Linked DNA regions of Homo sapiens: region 1 is linked to region 2. The links come from fine-mapping of genetic effects on gene expression. A gene starts in region 2. The other region holds a variant in brackets. All regions are shown on one strand. Distances are between the middles of the regions.

Region 1 (8,321 bases), 90 kb before region 2:
TGTCACAGACACAGGAATACTGGGTTTTACAAGCATAGGAACGCTTCGTGTTTTTTCCCCTTTGTAATAGAAGCCTGATTGCTGGAGTATGAGACGTGCTTCTGATTTTTGTCTATTTTCCTTCCCTTTATATGTGTGCTGGGAGGTTTTGAGTCCACCACCATAGAATAATTACAGTAATTGCACTTCGATCTTGGTCCGTGAAATTTAGCTTCTATGCATGCATATTATATTTTATTTTTGAACCTGCATCACTGGCAACTATGCATGCGTATTTAAACATAAGAACTCAGAAACTCGTTTCAGGGTATGCTGAAGTTAAAAATTAAAAAAAGAACTCAGCCGGGCGCGGTGGCTCATGCCTGTAATCCCAGCACTTTGGTAGGCCGAGGCGGGCGGATCACCTGAGGTCAGGAGTTCAAGACCAGCCTGGCCAACATGGTGAAACCCTGTCTGTACTAAAAATACAAAAAATTTAGCTGGGTGTGGTGGTGGGCGCCTGTAATCCCAGCTACTCGGGAGGCTGAAGCACAAGAATCGCTTGAACCTGAGAGGCGGAGGTTGCAGTGAGCCGAAATCGCGCCATTGCACTCCAGCCTGGCCGACAGAGCGAGACTCCGTCTCAAAAAAAAAAAAAAAAAAAAAAGAATATGTTTTGCTTCATTCATTTTAGACTTTTATCATTTGTCGTAGAACCATAAGGCTGGAGGGTACTTTATTTTTGTTTATTTATTTATTTTTAAATTAGAGACGGAGTGTCCCTATGTTGCCCAGGCTGGGCTTGAACTCCTGGGCTCAGGTGATCCTCCCACCTCAGCCTCCCAAAGTTTGGGATTATAGGCATGAGCCACTGCAGCCAACCTAGAGTGTACTTTAGAGATCGTGGAAGCCATTTTATTTTATAGAAAAGGAAACCAAAGTCCATCTTGGGAAACTGACTCCTTGTTTTTTTTTGTTTGTTTGTTTGTTTTTGTTTTGTTTTGTTTTGTTTTGTTTTTTCTTGAGACAGAGTTTCGTTCTTGTTGCCCAGGCTGGAGTGCAATAGCACGGTCTTGGCTCAAGCGATTCTCCTGCCTCAGCCTCCGGAGTAGCTGGGGTTACAGGCACCTGCCACCATGCCCGGCTACTTTTTGTGTTTTTAGTAGAGATGGGGTTTCACCATGTTGGCCATGCTGGTTTCGAGCTCGTGAGGTCAGGTGATCCGTCTGCCTCAGCCTCCCAAAGTGCTGGGATTACAGGCGTGAGACACCACACCTGGCCGAAACTGACTCCTTTTTAATGGTGGAACCATTTTTGTTTCTTATAGTTATGTTTGGGCCATCCTGATGTTTGTTTAGATTTTGTGTTTTGCTAAAGTAACAGTACAATTTACATTTTTCAGCCGGACACGGTGGCTCACGCCTGTAATCCCAGCACTTTGGGAGGTTGTGGCGGGTAGATTACCTGAGATCAGAAGTTCCAGACCAGCCTGAACATGGCGAAACCCAGTATCTACTAAAAATACAAAAATTAGCCGGGTGTGGTGGCACGCACACGTGGTCCCAGCTTCTTGGGAGGCTGAGGCATTAGAATTGCTTGAACCCGGGAGGCAGAGGTTTGCAGTGAGCCGAAATCATGCCATCTCAAAAAAAAAATTTTTTATTTATTTATTTATTTATTTTTTTTTTTTGGTGATAGTCTCACTGTGTTGCCTAGGCTGGAGTGCAGTGGCACCATCACAGCTCACTGCAGCCTTGACCTCCTGGGACTCAACTGATCCTCCTGCCTCCACCTTCCAAGTAGCTGGGACCACAAGGGTGCGCCACCAGTTTTATTTTCCGTAGAAACAGGCTGGTCTGGGGACTCCTGGGCTCAGGAGTGCCTCCCTCCTCCCACCTTCCAAAGTGCTGGGATTACAGGTGTGAGCCACCATGCCCAGCCAAATTTTTCTTTTTCTTCTTCTGTTGTTGTGGTTTTGTTTTGTTTTTGTTTTTGTTTTTGAGACAGGGTCTCGCTCTGTCATGCAGGCTGCAGTGCAGTTGGCACAGCTCACTGCAGCCTTAACCTCCTGGGCTCAAGCCATCCTTCCACCTCAGCCTCCCAAAGTGCTGGGATTACAAGCGAGAGCCACTGCACCCAGCCTCAGTAACTCGTTAATGTGCCCTCATTCCTACAGTTACCACCACCAAAGTGTTCATTCTTTGGGCCTGTCAGGGTTGATTATTTATTAAATGGAAAACTATCCGATTTAACTAAATTTAAACCCAAAGGATCAATGAGCCCTTTTATTTTTCTATATATGTTAGCCTTTTTTGTTTTTAAATGGAGTGCTTAACTGAATGCCAAAAAGCAGTGTTAGAAATAGCTTTTTAGGATGAAGCCCTAAAAATGTCCTCATTTTTCACAGCTGCTTCTTTTTTCTTACTTTGGGACTTTCAGGTTACGTAAAAGCTCTGAGTAATTGTTTTCCAAAATAATTTGCCTTTCAAGCTTCAATACTAGGTGGAGATCCTGTTCTTAAGTGGGGTGGGGTGTGTGGGGCAGAGAATGCTAGTAGAGTTTACCTAAAAAAAGTTAAGCATGTGGGGGATGTGTCCATAGCTAATAGAATAGATCCTGCTTTACCCATTATTGGATTTAACAATATAATTTAAATCATGGCCGGGCATGGTGGCTCACGCCTGTAATCCCAGCACTTTGGTAGGCTGAGGCGGGCGGATCACAATGTCAGGAGATCGAGACCATCCTGGCTAACGCGGTGAAACCCCGTCTCTACTAAAAATACAAAAAAATTAGCCGGGCGTGGTGGCGAGTGCCTGTAGTCCCAGCTGCTGGGAAGGCTGAGATAGGAGAATGGCGTGAACCTGGGAGGCGGAGCTTGCAGTGAGCTGAGATTGCGCCACTGCACTCCCGCCTGGGCGACAGAGTGAGACTCCATCTCAAAAAAAAAAAAAAAATTTAAATCACGTGGGGAGAGTCTGTTTTAGCCCTTCAGAAAGGGATGTATGGGTTTTTAAATTTTTATTTATTTTAATTTGTTTGATATAGAGTGTTGCTCTATCACCTAGGCTAGAGTGCAGTGGCGCAGTCATAGCTCACTGCAGCCTTGTTGCCCTGGGCTCAAGGGATCCTCCCGCCTCAGCCTCCTGAGTAGCTGGGACCACCAAACCCCGCTAATTTTTTAAGTTTTTTGTGGAGAATGGAGGTCTGTCTTTGTTGCCCAAGCTGGTCTCTCAGTCCTGGCATCAAGCGATCCTGCCTTGGCCTCTCAAAGTTCTAGTTCTGTTTTATAAAAGACTTTTTGGAATACAACCAGTTTGTAATTTGGCTTCCAGAAGACATATGATCAAATCCTTGAAGGTGGTGATCTCCTTGACTTGGATTTGCTGTTGGTGGTCATCTTATTCACAGTTAGGAAACAAAGCCTAGCACTCATGTAGTCAAATCCATGCCCAGCAGTGAACAAAACGAATTGCTTATCATGAAGCACTGTTGTGGATGGGACAGGTAATTACCTCTGGGGAAGGAGTACATAGACCTTTCATTGGGTAAATACTTAGGAGTGGAATTACTGTGTTATATGGTAGGTTTGTGTTTAACTTGATAAGAAACTGCTTAAACCGTCTTCCAAAGTGATTGTATCATTTTATACTTGCACTTTCAGTATTCAGTTAAGGCTAGCTTTAGTTTTTGAAGAGGTGGCTTATAATTTTTTCTTTTTTGAGACAGGGTCTCACTCTGTCTCCGAGGCTAGTGCCACTGCATCTGGCCCTAAGTTCTTGATAATAGTGCATTAGATGGTTGTTCTAATCTATGTTTTTACATAGATAGATAGATAGATAGATAGATAGATAGATAGATAGATAGATATTTTTTTTTT[TG/G]AGACGGAGTCTTGCTCTGTCGCCCAGGCTGGAATGCAGTGGCACGATCTTGGCTCACTGCAACCTCCCTGGGTTCAAGCTATTCTCCTCCTTCAGCATTCCAAGTAGCTGGGACTACAGGGGTGTGCCACCACGCCTGGCTAATTTTTTGTATTTTAGTAGAGACAGGGTTTCACCATGTTGGCCAGGCTGGTCTTGAACTCCTGGCCTCAAGTGATCTGCCTGCCTCAGCCTCCCAAAGTGCTGGGATTACAGGTGTGAGCCACCGCACCTGGCCTTGTTTTCTGATATATTAAATTTGAATATTAGTCTTGTAAGACTTATTAAATATCCACGTAGTTTTGATTAAATGTTCATACTTACCAGACATATTTAGGTGTAGAGATCCATTTTTTTCTTGTTGTAGAAATTAAGGCTGGGCACCGTGGCTCATGCCTGTTATCCCAGCACTTTGGGAGGCCGAGGCAGGCAGATCATGAGGTCAAGAGTTCGAGACCAGCCTGACTAACATGGTGAAACTTTGTGTCTACTAAAGATACAAAAAATTAGCCTGACATGGTGGCGCATGCCTGTAATCCCAGCTACTTGGGAGGCTAAGGCAGGAGAATCACTTGAACCCGGGAGGTGGAGGTTGCAGTGAGCCGAAATCGTGCCATTGCACTCCAGCCTGGGCGACAGGGTGAGACTCTGTCTCAAAAAAAAAAAAAAAGAAATTAAAACGTGTTCACTTCTAGTCCATTTATGTACATGTTCCACTTCATTCTGGGCTTGGATTATGTAGGTAATTTAGGTCTCTGGGAAGATCTTTTCTGCTTCGTTTTTTTGCTACTCTTCCTCCTGCCAGTTACTGCATTAAAGATATATAGGATATTACTAATGTTTAAATTTCAGTGTTCTTAGAACAACAATGTTGAGAGGTTTCTGGGTGAAGTTTTTAAAAATATATATATATGTATGTTAAGGCTGGGCATGGTGGCTCACACCTGTAATTCTAGTATTTTGGGAGTGGTAGGATTGCTTGAGGCTAGGAGTTTAAGACCACCCTGGGCAACATATCAAGACCCCCATCTCTAAAAGTAAATAAATAAAAATATGTTAAGCCTTAAACAACTGGAAGTTACACCACACTTATCTAATACAGGTAGTAGGAAATGTGATTTGAGATAGGTTTCATTTCTTTAAGTTATGATTTCTATAAATAGACAACTAAGACGTTTTTAGATAAGGGTTAGTTTATAGCTACCATTTGTTTAATACTTACCAGTGCATAGTGTTAACCTACCTGTTTTCACATTTAATCTTCATAATCTGCTAAGGGGGGTAGCGTCCCCATTTTACAGATAAGGAAAATAAACTTAAGTTAATTTTCCAGGGTCAAACAGAGAGAGCGAAGAGCCTAGAGGTATCTGAGTGCTAGGTTGTGCTGCATTCAATACCCAAAGATAAAATTTTCTGCCTCCGCCTATCCCCCTACCTGTTCCAGAGGCTGTTCAGAAGGAATTCAGATTTCCAAACTCAATTCAGTGTCCATTTGACAAGAAGAAAGAAAAAATGGGGCTGGGTGCAGTGGCTCGCGTCTGTAATCCCAGCACTTTGGGAGGCTGAGGTGGGCAGATCACTGGAGGTCAGGAGTTCGAGACCAGCCTGGGCAATGTGGTGAAATCCCGTCTCTACTCAAAATACAAAACTTAGCCAAGCTTAGTGGCGCTCGCCTGTAGTCTCAGCTACTCAGAAGGCTGAGGCAGGAGAATCACTTGAATCCAGGAGGCAGAGGTTGCAGTGAGCTGAGATTGTTCCACTGCATTTCAGCCTGGGTGACAGAGTGAGACTCGATCTCAAAAAAAAAAAAAAAAAATGGAAATGCTTTTCATACAGTACTCTATGTAAACATCATTTCTTTTTTTCTTTGAGACAGAGTCTTGCTGTGTCGCCCAGGCTGGAGTACAATGGCATCATCTCACCTCACCTCAACCTCCGCCTCCTGGGTTCGAGTGATTCTCCTGCCTCAGTCTCTCGCGTAGCTGAGATTACAGGCGCCCGTCATCACGCCCAGCTAATTTTTGTATTTTTAGTAGAGACGGAGTTTCACAATGTTGATCAGGCTGGTCACAAACTCCTGAACTCAGGTGATCCACCAGTCTCAGCCTCCCAAAGTGCTGGCATTACAGGTGTGAGCCACTGCGCCCAGCCCAAAATATTCCTAGTAAAACAGTATTATTTTGCATTAGGTGTAGATTAGAGTGTACGTTCCCTTAGGGGATTTATCAGAATATTTTGGGAAGGGGCTGTAGTTTGATAAAGCAATTTGTATGTGTAATTTGTCAGGATGTGTAATTTATTTTGGAATATAATAACATGAGAATTTTTTTTTTTTTTTTTTTTTTTTTTTTTTGAGACAGAGTCTCGCTCTGTTGCCCAGGCTGGAGTGCAGTGGCGTGATCTCTGCTCACTGCAAGCTCCGCCTCCTGGGTTCACGCCATTCTCCTGCCTCAGCCTCCCAACTAGGTGGGACCACAGGCGCCCGCCACCACACCTGGCTAATTTTTTGTATTTTTAGTAGAGACGGGGTTTCACCGTGTTAGCCAGGATGGTTTCGATATCCTGACCTGGTGATCTGCCCATCTCGGCCTCCCAAAGTGCTGGGATTACAGGCGTGAGCCACCAAGCCCGGCCCGAGATTTTTTTTTTTTTAATGTGTGAATGAAGTATATAAGTTTATTTAAGAACTTGAATGGTGCCAGGGCTGGTGGCTCACACCTGTAATCCCAGCACTTTGGGAGCCAAGGGAGGAAGGAATGCTTGAGCCCAAAGAATTTGAGGCTGCAGTGAGCTGTGATTGCGCCACTACACTCCAGCCTAGGCAACAACAGAGCGAGAGCCTGTCTCAAAAAAAAGAACTTGAATGGACATTAGTATTGCTCTTAGTTTTTTTTTTTTGTTGCTTTTTTGGTTTTTTTTGTTGTTGTTGTTTATTGTCTTTTTTTTTTTTTTTGAGGCGGAGTCTCGCTCTGTCGCCAGGCTGGAGTGCAGTGGCACAATCTTGGCTCACTGCAACCTCCGCCTCCTGGGTTCAAGCAATTCCCCTGCTTCATCCTCCCGAGTTGCTGGGACTACAGGCACGCGCCACCACACCCAGCTAATTTTTATACTTTTAGTAGAGATGGGGTTTCACCATGTTGGCCAGGATGGCCTTGATCTCTTGACCTCTTGATCCACCCGCCTCAGCCTCCCAAAGTGCTGGGATTACAGGCGTGAGCCACTGCGCCCGGCCTAGTCTTAGTTTTTTAGTTTTTGTTTTTGTTTTTGTTTTTGTTTGTTTGTTTGTTTTTTGAGTTGGAGTCTTGCTCTGTCGCCCAGGCTGGAGTGCAGTGGTGTGATCTCAGCTCACTGCAACCTCCGCCGTCCAGGTTCACGCCATTCTCCTGCCTCAGCCTCCCGAGTAGCTGGGACTACAGCCGCCCGCCACCACACCTGGCTAATTTTTTGTATTTTTAGTAGAGACGGGGTTTCACCGTGTTAGCCAGGATGGTCTTGATCTCCTGACCTCGTGATCCGCCTGCCTCGGCCTCCCAAAGTGCTGGGATTACAGGCGTGAGCCACTGCGCCTGGCCTATTCTTAGTTTTTAGAAGTGGGGTGTCGCTGTGTTGCCCAGGCTGGAATGCAATGGCTATCTTATCAGGTTCTGTCATATTGTTAGCACCCTACGACCTTGAACTCCTGGGCTCGGGTAATCTTCCTGCCTCAGCCTCTGAGTAGCTGGCACTACAGGTGTGTGCCCCACTATGCCCACCTGGGACATTTTTACTTAGGAATTAATACTCTGGTTATGTGTAAAAATTCAAACAATATGGAAGTATATAAAGTAGTTTTTACGTCCCATGATAATCACTGTTAATTTAAAATCAGAGGGAACCACTGTTAATAATTTCAAGCGAGTATTATACATTAGGGAGAAAAGTATAAACATGCCTATGTAATACTTTTTGTTCTACTTGATTTTATTTGCTTAATTTAAAATATATCTTTCTGTATCAATGTATACGATGTATTTCATTTGACCTGTTCAATATTTTTGCTGCCACAACATATATAGTCAACTCAAAATTTAATGCATTGAACAAAATATATCAAGTACTATTTGTGTACATTGAAGTTATGGTTCTTTCACATTATAGCTATCCAGTCAGTTCGCTGCTATTCCCATGGGTCACAGGAGACAGATGAGGAGTTTGATGCTCGCTGGGTAACATACTTCAACAAGCCAGATATAGATGCCTGGGAATTGCGTAAAGGTAATTGGAACATAAACATATTTGTCTATTTTGGTGTGTAAATATGAACTGCTTCTGCTCCTTTATTGAGAGCAACTGTTTCGAAAACATGCGTTGTTTAAACTGGTTACTTCATGCAACTTGCAGTTAGGAAAGTTTATGGCTACCTATAAAGCAGGATTTTAAGGC
Region 2 (8,321 bases):
CGCTGCCCTCCCACCACCCCTCATGCTTCTTGCCCTGCTGTTGTTAATCTGGTCCCTTTTGACCAGTGACCCAATTTCATTACTCCTTACCTAAGTAAGACCCTGGTAGAAAAGCTGTGATTCATGACTGCCGTTTGCACCTGTACTGGGAATCAGAAGGCTTGAGTTGGCTGGGTGCGGTGGCTCATGCCTGTAATCCCAGCACTTTGGGAGGCCAAGGCGGGTGGATCACCTGAGGTCAGGAAGGAGTTTGAGACCAGCCTGGCCAACATGGCAAAACCTTGTTTCTAGAGAGTACAAAAATTGGCCAGGCGCATTGGTAGGTGCCTATAATCCCAGCTACTTGGGAGGCTGAGGCAGAAGAATCACTTGAACCCGGGAGGTGGAGGTTGCAGTGAGCCGGGATCACACCACTGTTCTCCAGCCTGGGCTACAGAGCAAGACTCAATCTCAAAAAAAAAAAAAAAAAAAAAAATTAACTGACAATAGGTGTATGGGTTTATTTCTGGAATCTCAGTTCTATTCCATTGATCTATTGATCTATATGTCTATGTTTATGCCAGTCCTACACTATTTTAGTGACTGTAGCTTTGTAGTAAGTTTTGATGTCAAGAAATATGAGGATATCCCTTTTACAGATGAGGACATGGGGCTCAGACAGGTGACAGCAAGTTGGCCAGTGATCCTCCTTCACAGAAGGTGGGTCCTCAGGAGTGAGCAGCCACGCTTTCCATACTCCCCACCCCCAAAGCAGCAGAAAAAGGCCCGGCCCAGTGCTACCTTTTTAATTAATTATTTTTTGAGATGGAGTCTCTGTTGCCCAGACTGGAGTGCAGTGCCGCGATCTCTGCTCACTGCAAGCTCCGCCTCCCAGGTTCACGCCATTCTCCTGCCTCAGCCTCCCGAGTAACTGGGACTATGTAGGTGCCTGCCACCATGCCTGGCTCATTTTTTGTATTTTTAGTAGAGATGGGGTTTCACTGTGTTAGCCAGGATGGTCTCGATCTGCTGACCTCGTGATCCGCCCATCTTGGCCTCCCAAAGTGTTGGGATTACGGGCTTGAGCCACTGTGCCCAGCCCTTTTTCTTTTTTCTTTTCTTTTTTTTTTTTTTTTGGAGACAGGGTCTCACTCTGTTGCTCAGGCTGGAGTGCCGTGGCGTGATCACAGCTCACTGCAGCCTTGAACCTCACGGGCTCAAGTGATCCTCCTACCTCAGCATCCCAAGTAGCTGGGAGCATAGGCATGTATGACCACAGCCAGCTAATTTTTTTTTTTTTTGAGTTGGAGTCTCGCCCTGTCACCTAGGCTGGAGTACAATGGCATGATCTCGGCTCACTGCAGCCTGCACCTTCCAGGTTCAAGTGATTCTCCTGCCTCAGTCTCCCGAGTAGCTGGGATTGCAGGCGTGTGCAACCACGCGCAGCTAATTTTTGTATTTTTAGTAGAGCAAGGTTTCTCCATGTTGGCCAGGCTGGTCTCAAACTCCTGACCTCAAGTGATCTGCCTTCCTTGGCCTCCCAAAGTGCTGGGATTACAGGCACGAACCTGGCCTTTTTTTATTTTTTATGGAGACAGGGCCTCCCTCTGTTGCCCAGGTTGGTCTTGAACTCTTGGGCTCAAGCGATCCTCCTGCCTCAGCCTCCCAAAGTGCTGGGATTACAGGTGAGAGCCATAGCACCCAGCCCGGTGCTACTTCTGACTCTGTGAAGGCAGCAACCACATCCTCCCTTTCAGACCTCACATAACCAGAAGATTCCCCTTGTGAATGGGGTAGTGTGGGCCTGTCAGCCTTCACGGAGGTCTGGCCTCACAGGCCAAGGGCTTCTGGCTCACAGGGCTCCCTGTGCTGTGGGGAGATGCCAAGGTGATGGTCAGGACACAGCAGCCACTTGGAGAAGAGCCCCTTATGCTGACTTTTGGAGCCCACTCCCACTTTGCTCCCTCTGGCCTCTTCTTCCCTTTATAGCGGTTGGATTGCAGCCCTGTCTACACTGGATAATCATTCCCTGGCCATATCAGTCATCATGATGGTGGTGGCTGGCTTCTTCACCCTCTGTGCCGTGCTCTCAGTCTTCCTCCTGCAGCGGGTGAGTGGTGTGGGCAGGGCTGACAGCAAATGGGAGGAGGCAGGCAACCGTTTCCTGCCCTTGCCACGAGATGTTTTTCACCACTGCAGTTGGGCATCCTAGGCCCCCAAAGGTCCAGTACCTTTCTCCAGGGATCTGGGTGGGGGGTCAGGCAGTGCCAGGCTTCTGGTGACCCCTTTGGGAGTATAACCTGGATGGCTGGCTTCCTGGTGGGCCCAAAGGACAGGCTTCTCTCACCCCACCCCTCTTCGCCAGGTGCACTCCCTCTACCGACGGACAGGGGCCAGCTTCCAGCAGGCCCAGGAGGAGTTTTCCCAGGGCATCTTCAGCAGCAGAACCTTCCACAGAGCTGCTTCATCTGCTGCCCAAGGAGCCTTCCAGGGGAATTAGTCCTCCTCTCTTCTCTCCCCCTCAGCCTTTCTCTCGCCTGCCTTCTGAGCTGCACTTTCCGTGGGTGCCTTATGTGGTGGTGGTTGTGCCCAGCACAGACCTGGCAGGGTTCTTGCCGTGGCTCTTCCTCCTCCCTCAGCGACCAGCTCTCCCTGGAACGGGAGGGACAGGGAATTTTTTCCCCCTCTATGTACAAAAAAAAACAAAGCTCTCTTTCCTTCTCTGGTGATGGTTTGGTAGGATTCTTTTGTCTCTGGAAGCAGTGGGACTGAAGTTCTCTTCGTCCTGTGCACACACAGACACCCCCACACAGTTGGGATCACAGGCTGACCTGGGCCCATCCCAGCTGGAGCTTTCTGCCAGGGTCCTGGGCCTTGACTCCCCCACCCTGCAGGCCTGGCCTGAATCTGGCTTCTTAGACACAGCCCAGTCCTTCCTGCCTGGGCTGGGAATAAGCCTCTCACAGGTTCTGGTGGACAGATCTGTTCCCCAGGTCACTCCAGTGGTCTCCAGGCTTCCAGAGAAGGCTGGTTGCCTCAAGCTCTTCTCTGCCTCATAAACGGATCCAGAGAAGGCTGGTTGCCTTAAGCTCTTCCCTGCCTCGTGTTCCTGAGAAACGGATTAATAGCCCTTTATCCCCCTGCACCCTCCTGCAGGGGATGGCACTTTGAGCCCTCTGGAGCCCTCCCCTTGCTGAGCCTTACTCTCTTCAGACTTTCTGAATGTACAATGCCGTTGGTTGGGATTTGGGGACTGGAAGGGACCAAGGACACTGACCCCAAGCTGTCCTGCCTAGCGTCCAGCGTCTTCTAGGAGGGTGGGGTCTGCCTGTCCTGGTGTGGTTGGTTTGGCCCTGTTTGCTGTGACTACCCCCCCCCCTCCCCGAACCGAGGGACGGCTGCCTTTGTCTCTGCCTCAGATGCCACCTGCCCCGCCCATGCTCCCCATCAGCAGCATCCAGACTTTCAGGAAGGGCAGGGCCAGCCAGTCCAGAACCGCATCCCTCAGCAGGGACTGATAAGCCATCTCTCGGAGGGCCCCCTAATACCCAGTGGAGTCTGGTTCACACCCTGGGGGGTGTGTCACTGTGATGGGACACGTAGGAGTCCACCCTTAAAACCAGCACCCTGTCCCTCGAGGCTGCCGAGTGGGTGTGTGGACTGGGGTGCCTTCCCACAAAACTAGCCTCCGGCTCTGGGCCCGAGACAGCCGCAGGCCCCAGCCACTGAATGATACTGGCAGCGGCTGGGGTTTTATGAACTCCTTTCTGGTATTTTTTCCCCTCTATGTACAAATGTATATGTTACGTCTCAATTTTTGTGCTTAAGTAAAAATAAAAACATTTTCAGACAACACGGGTCCACATGTCTGGTGGACTTGGGAGGACGGGGCAGCCCACAGGATTAGGGGCTGGGCGCCGCTGCTAAGATTGGAGAGCGGGGACAGTTAAGATGCAATAAATAGGTCAAGGCCCTTCCTCAGAAAAGTGAAAAGCAGCTGGGAGGCCTGGGAAGCCAACGCGGCCTCTTCCAAAGGCGCCTTCTCGTGCCAGTAGCTCTCCTTTCAGAGCTGCGGGTCCTGGGGAGGGGCCCTGGGAGCCTCCCGGACGCCGTCGCCCCCACACACGCCCGCTCCGCCGCCCGCGCCCTCACGTGGGCGATCTCTAGACGCCTCTGCGCCCGCTAGGAGTCCCCGGAGACCACGCCGGCCGTCCTCCGTTGTTAACTTCTAGGCTCGCGGGGCCTCCGTATCCCCACGTGGGCCCTGCAGGAACTGGCGGGGCGCGTGACCCGGCGAGGCCCAGAGACAGGGGAGGGGCGCCGGGAGCCGGGCGGATCCGCGTCCCCGATGCGCGCTGCATTTCCGGCGGGCGGCGCTGGGGGCAGCGTGGAGCCACCCAGTGCTCGGCCCGCCCCGCAACCCGCCGGAACCGCCGCCCGCAGCGAGGAAGCGCCCGCGCGGGCGCAGGCGGCCGGAATGGCGGGGCCCGGCTGGGGTCCCCCGCGCCTGGACGGCTTCATCCTCACCGAGCGCCTGGGCAGCGGCACGTACGCCACGGTGTACAAGGCCTACGCCAAGGTGGGTGCCGGCCGATGGCCCCGTGCCCGCCCGAGCTAGCTCGGCTGGTGCCGGCCGGGGAGACTCTGAGAGGTTAGCGACAGTGTGGGAATAGTTAGGGGCGGGAGGCCGGCCTCGCCCCAGCTGACCCTCGGCGGAGGTTGGAGCCGACTGCCACGCTTAGGTCTTAAAGAGCGCACCTGCACCCACCTGCAGGGTCAGTGGCTGAAGAACAGGCTCAAAACAGGTTACCTGGTGGGCTGGGAGGAGTCTGGGACTGGAGCCAGTTGGGAGGCAGAGTGGGCGGTTCTAGAACCCTGAGTGACATGCCTCTGCCGGGAGCACTCCAGAATGCAAAGAAATGGATCAGCTAGCCGAGGGTTGGAGAAGACCAGGCTGAGGCTGTGTCGGGAAGCCAGGATTCCAGAATCAGCATTCCTCACTGGCCTCACAAGGGAAAGCTGGGAAGCCCGGTGCTGGTGTGCAGTAGGTAGACCCGGGGAGGGGCGGGGTGGGGGAACAGAGGGAACCAGATAGAGCCTTTCCAGTCAGACAAGGGTCCTGGCCCCCTCAAGGCAGAGTCCCCAAATCTCCTGTCTCGCAGAAGGACACTCGTGAAGTGGTAGCCATAAAGTGTGTAGCCAAGAAAAGTCTGAACAAGGCATCGGTGGAGAACCTCCTCACGGAGATTGAGATCCTCAAGGGCATTCGACATCCCCACATTGTGCAGCTGAAAGACTTTCAGGTGTGAGCCTGGGGCGGGGCCGCTGCCAAAGGGAGCTGGAGAAGGGACACTCTCTTCAGGCCGCCTCTCTGCCTCTAAACACAGTGGGACAGTGACAATATCTACCTCATCATGGAGTTTTGCGCAGGGGGCGACCTGTCTCGCTTCATCCATACCCGCAGGATTCTGCCTGAGAAGGTGGCGCGTGTCTTCATGCAGCAATTAGGTAAAGGCCTGTGACACCAGCCTGACACTCTGTCCCTTGTTCTCTGCCCCCCACCATCCCACCCCTCCCCCAGGCTTAGAGCCTTGGCACGCATTGCAGCTGCCTCCTGCACAGCCTGAAATTTTATGGTCCTGTTTATCTCATACACTCAACCCTTGCTCAAGGACGCTGTGGGAGAGATGAGGGGGTAACCCCTCTGTGGGGTGTTCAGGCTTCCATACATAGAACATAATATAAGGACCTTGTAGAACATTCCAGAGTCCTGTAGGTAGGACTCAAGTGCTGTGCCAAGGAAAAGAGCAGGATCTCAAGGGCTGGGGCATCCAGAGAAGCTTCTGAGAGGTGGGGAGACTTGTGAAGGGGCAGAGGGAAGGAGGGTGGGCACTCGGGTGGGGTGGCAAACTCCTAGAAGTGGTGTGATCTTGGTGCTTATATGGAAAACATTAGACCAGCCAGGCAGGAACTGGGGTTGTGCAGGCTTGAGGAGGCAGATGTGAGCCGGGGAGGCGAGAGGCAGGCGGGAATGGGCTCTGAACTGTCTCTCTTCGTGGGTCCTGCTCCTCAGCTAGCGCCCTGCAATTCCTGCATGAACGGAATATCTCTCACCTGGATCTGAAGCCACAGAACATTCTACTGAGCTCCTTGGAGAAGCCCCACCTAAAACTGGCAGGTCTGTGTCTGAAACAGCAGGGATGAGGTTTGGAGAGTGCAGAGGCCTCCCTCTGCCTGGGCTCACTCAGCAGCCCTGGTTCTTATGGAGCCCTCTATAGAGTCCTCAAAGAGTGACAGGCCGTGAAGTCTGGGGTTGGGCCCTGTCATCAAAAGGTGGAAGCTTTCTCAGGCTACCCATGCTCAAGTCCAGCAGCATAATGGGTGGAGTTAGGGCTCAGTCTGTGGCCAGAGTTGGGACTCACTGTGTGTCCAGGTTTAGGGGTCAATCTGGGAACAGTGCCAGGGTTCAGCGTGTGACAAGCATCAGGGATCCCTCTGTGGGCAGGGACAGGACTTGGTCTGTCATCAGAATTGGGGCTCAAGTCTGTGACTCCATCTGTGGCCACATAGGAGGGGTGTGGTGGGGGAGTAGGAGGTGGTGACCCTTGATAAGATTTGGATAATTGACACTGGAGGCCAGAGACTGTGATAGAACCTAAGCCTGGGGGGACAGTGAGAGGGTGGGGGCTTATGCAGGTAGCTGGTGTGATCAGGTGGGCTTCCTAGGAAAAGGTGCCCAAGGGAGCTGGGAAGGATGGGTAGGTTTTATACCCCAGAGGCAGATATAGGAGGGTGTTCCAGCCTAATGATGAGCAGAGGCTTGGAAATAGGGTTGATCCTGGCGGGTCTGGAGGGTGGAGAGGAGCCTGGGGTGAGGCTTTACAAGTCAGGAGCTGAAGCAGCTGGAATTCAAGCCCTGCTGCCTCTCCTCTTGCCTGCAGACTTTGGTTTCGCACAACACATGTCCCCGTGGGATGAGAAGCACGTGCTCCGTGGCTCCCCCCTCTACATGGCCCCCGAGATGGTGTGCCAGCGGCAGTATGACGCCCGCGTGGACCTCTGGTCCATGGGGGTCATCCTGTATGGTGAGACCTCTTTTCCCTGCTTCTCACCCTGAGGCCTACAGTTTCCTCAGGCAAGGCCTCTCTGGGCCACTTCTGAAGGGTTCTGATGAAAACTGACTGCTGGCCCAGGGCCCCTGCTGAGGGGCGTCAGGCCAGGCTTGACCCATTCCCTCCCAGCCTCCGCTCTGCCTCCCTTCCACAGAAGCCCTCTTCGGGCAGCCCCCCTTTGCCTCCAGGTCGTTCTCGGAGCTGGAAGAGAAGATCCGTAGCAACCGGGTCATCGAGGTGTGTCTAGCAGGGCCTTAGCGACCACTGGGGGGCAGAGGGAGTCAGGGCCCTGAGGGTTTAGACCTCGTTCTGACCTGCAGAGACTGGAGTATGGGCTCCAGGCTGCCTTTGTGGTGGAGGGGCAGGTTCTAGGCTGGAAGTCGAGGTGCCAGGCTGTCCCAGGGCCTCAGGTCAGCCCACAGCTGGCAGCACAGTGCCCATTTTGCAGGCCCTTGTGGGGAGAATGCAAAGCAGAGCCAGGCCCAGCCTTCCTAGGAGCATAGTCCAGGGAGGGAAATAAGGACCCAGAAACACGATTCTAGCTCAGCTCAGGGCTCCAGCGAGGGTGCACCGGGAGCCCAGGGATGGAGGCCTCGCTCCCCGCTGGCTCCATCATCCTGACCCATCCTGTTCCTCCTCGGTCTCAGATTCCCCACCTGTCCAACGCGTACCTCTGGGGTTCCTCGCAGACCCCTGGGCTAGGGGTAGGGGTGGAGGAGCCCAGTGTGATCTGTCCCTGCCGTTCCCTTCCCTGCAGCTCCCCTTGCGGCCCCTGCTCTCCCGAGACTGCCGGGACCTACTGCAGCGGCTCCTGGAGCGGGACCCCAGCCGTCGCATCTCCTTCCAGGACTTTTTTGCGCACCCCTGGGTGGACCTGGAGCACATGCCCAGTGGGGAGAGTCTGGGGCGAGCAGTGAGCAGACGGCTGGGGCTGGGGTGGGCTGAGGGTGGGCTGGAGGTCTCCTTGCCCCCGTTGGTGGTGAATTGGTGACTCACCCAACAGAGACAGAGGGCGGGCTCAGGGGAGCTGATCTCCCATCTTGGTGAGTGTGGGAGGGTAGGGAGGTGGACCTGACCCCTGATCTGCCCATCCCCAGACCGCCCTGGTGGTGCAGGCTGTGAAGAAAGACCAGGAGGGGGATTCAGCAGCTGCCTTATCACTCTACTGCAAGGCTCTGGACTTCTTTGTACCTGCCCTGCACTGTGAGTCCCAGGCCATGCCTGAAGCCC

Which allele goes with the higher level. Positions count from the first base shown, and alleles are read on the strand shown. Sizes are in standard deviations (SD) of each study's normalised expression.
For the expression in skin of the gene that starts at base 4,406 in region 2, G is the low allele of the variant in region 1 and TG is the other (small effect, 0.22 SD a copy in TwinsUK).

The links. PIP is the estimated chance that this variant, and not a neighbour inherited with it, causes the effect.
Region 1: its variant is fine-mapped to the expression of ULK3 in skin (TwinsUK, PIP 0.95).

The regions. Positions count from the first base shown.
Region 1 is chr15:74,928,948-74,937,268 of GRCh38, reverse strand. COX5A (cytochrome c oxidase subunit 5A) reads left to right here. Exons shown (of 5, transcript NM_004255.4): 2 at 8,037-8,153. Among named protein-coding and RNA genes, the nearest start is that of COX5A, 5.0 kb to the left of the region's middle. The variant TG/G (reference allele first, on the strand shown) is at 3,860.
Region 2 is chr15:74,839,241-74,847,561 of GRCh38, reverse strand. It overlaps ULK3 (unc-51 like kinase 3), which reads left to right and starts at 4,406. Exons shown (of 16, transcript NM_001099436.4): 1 at 4,406-4,558; 2 at 5,142-5,282; 3 at 5,367-5,487; 4 at 6,053-6,157; 5 at 6,921-7,064; 6 at 7,246-7,328; 7 at 7,849-8,004; 8 at 8,189-8,294. The coding sequence starts at 4,457. SCAMP2 (secretory carrier membrane protein 2) reads left to right here. Exons shown (of 9, transcript NM_005697.5): 8 at 1,969-2,089; 9 at 2,345-3,832. The coding sequence ends at 2,479. MIR6882 (microRNA 6882) reads left to right here and starts at 6,855; the gene lies at 6,855-6,920. RefSeq lists silencers at 3,925-4,644, 7,889-8,036 and enhancers at 3,907-4,818, 4,887-5,412.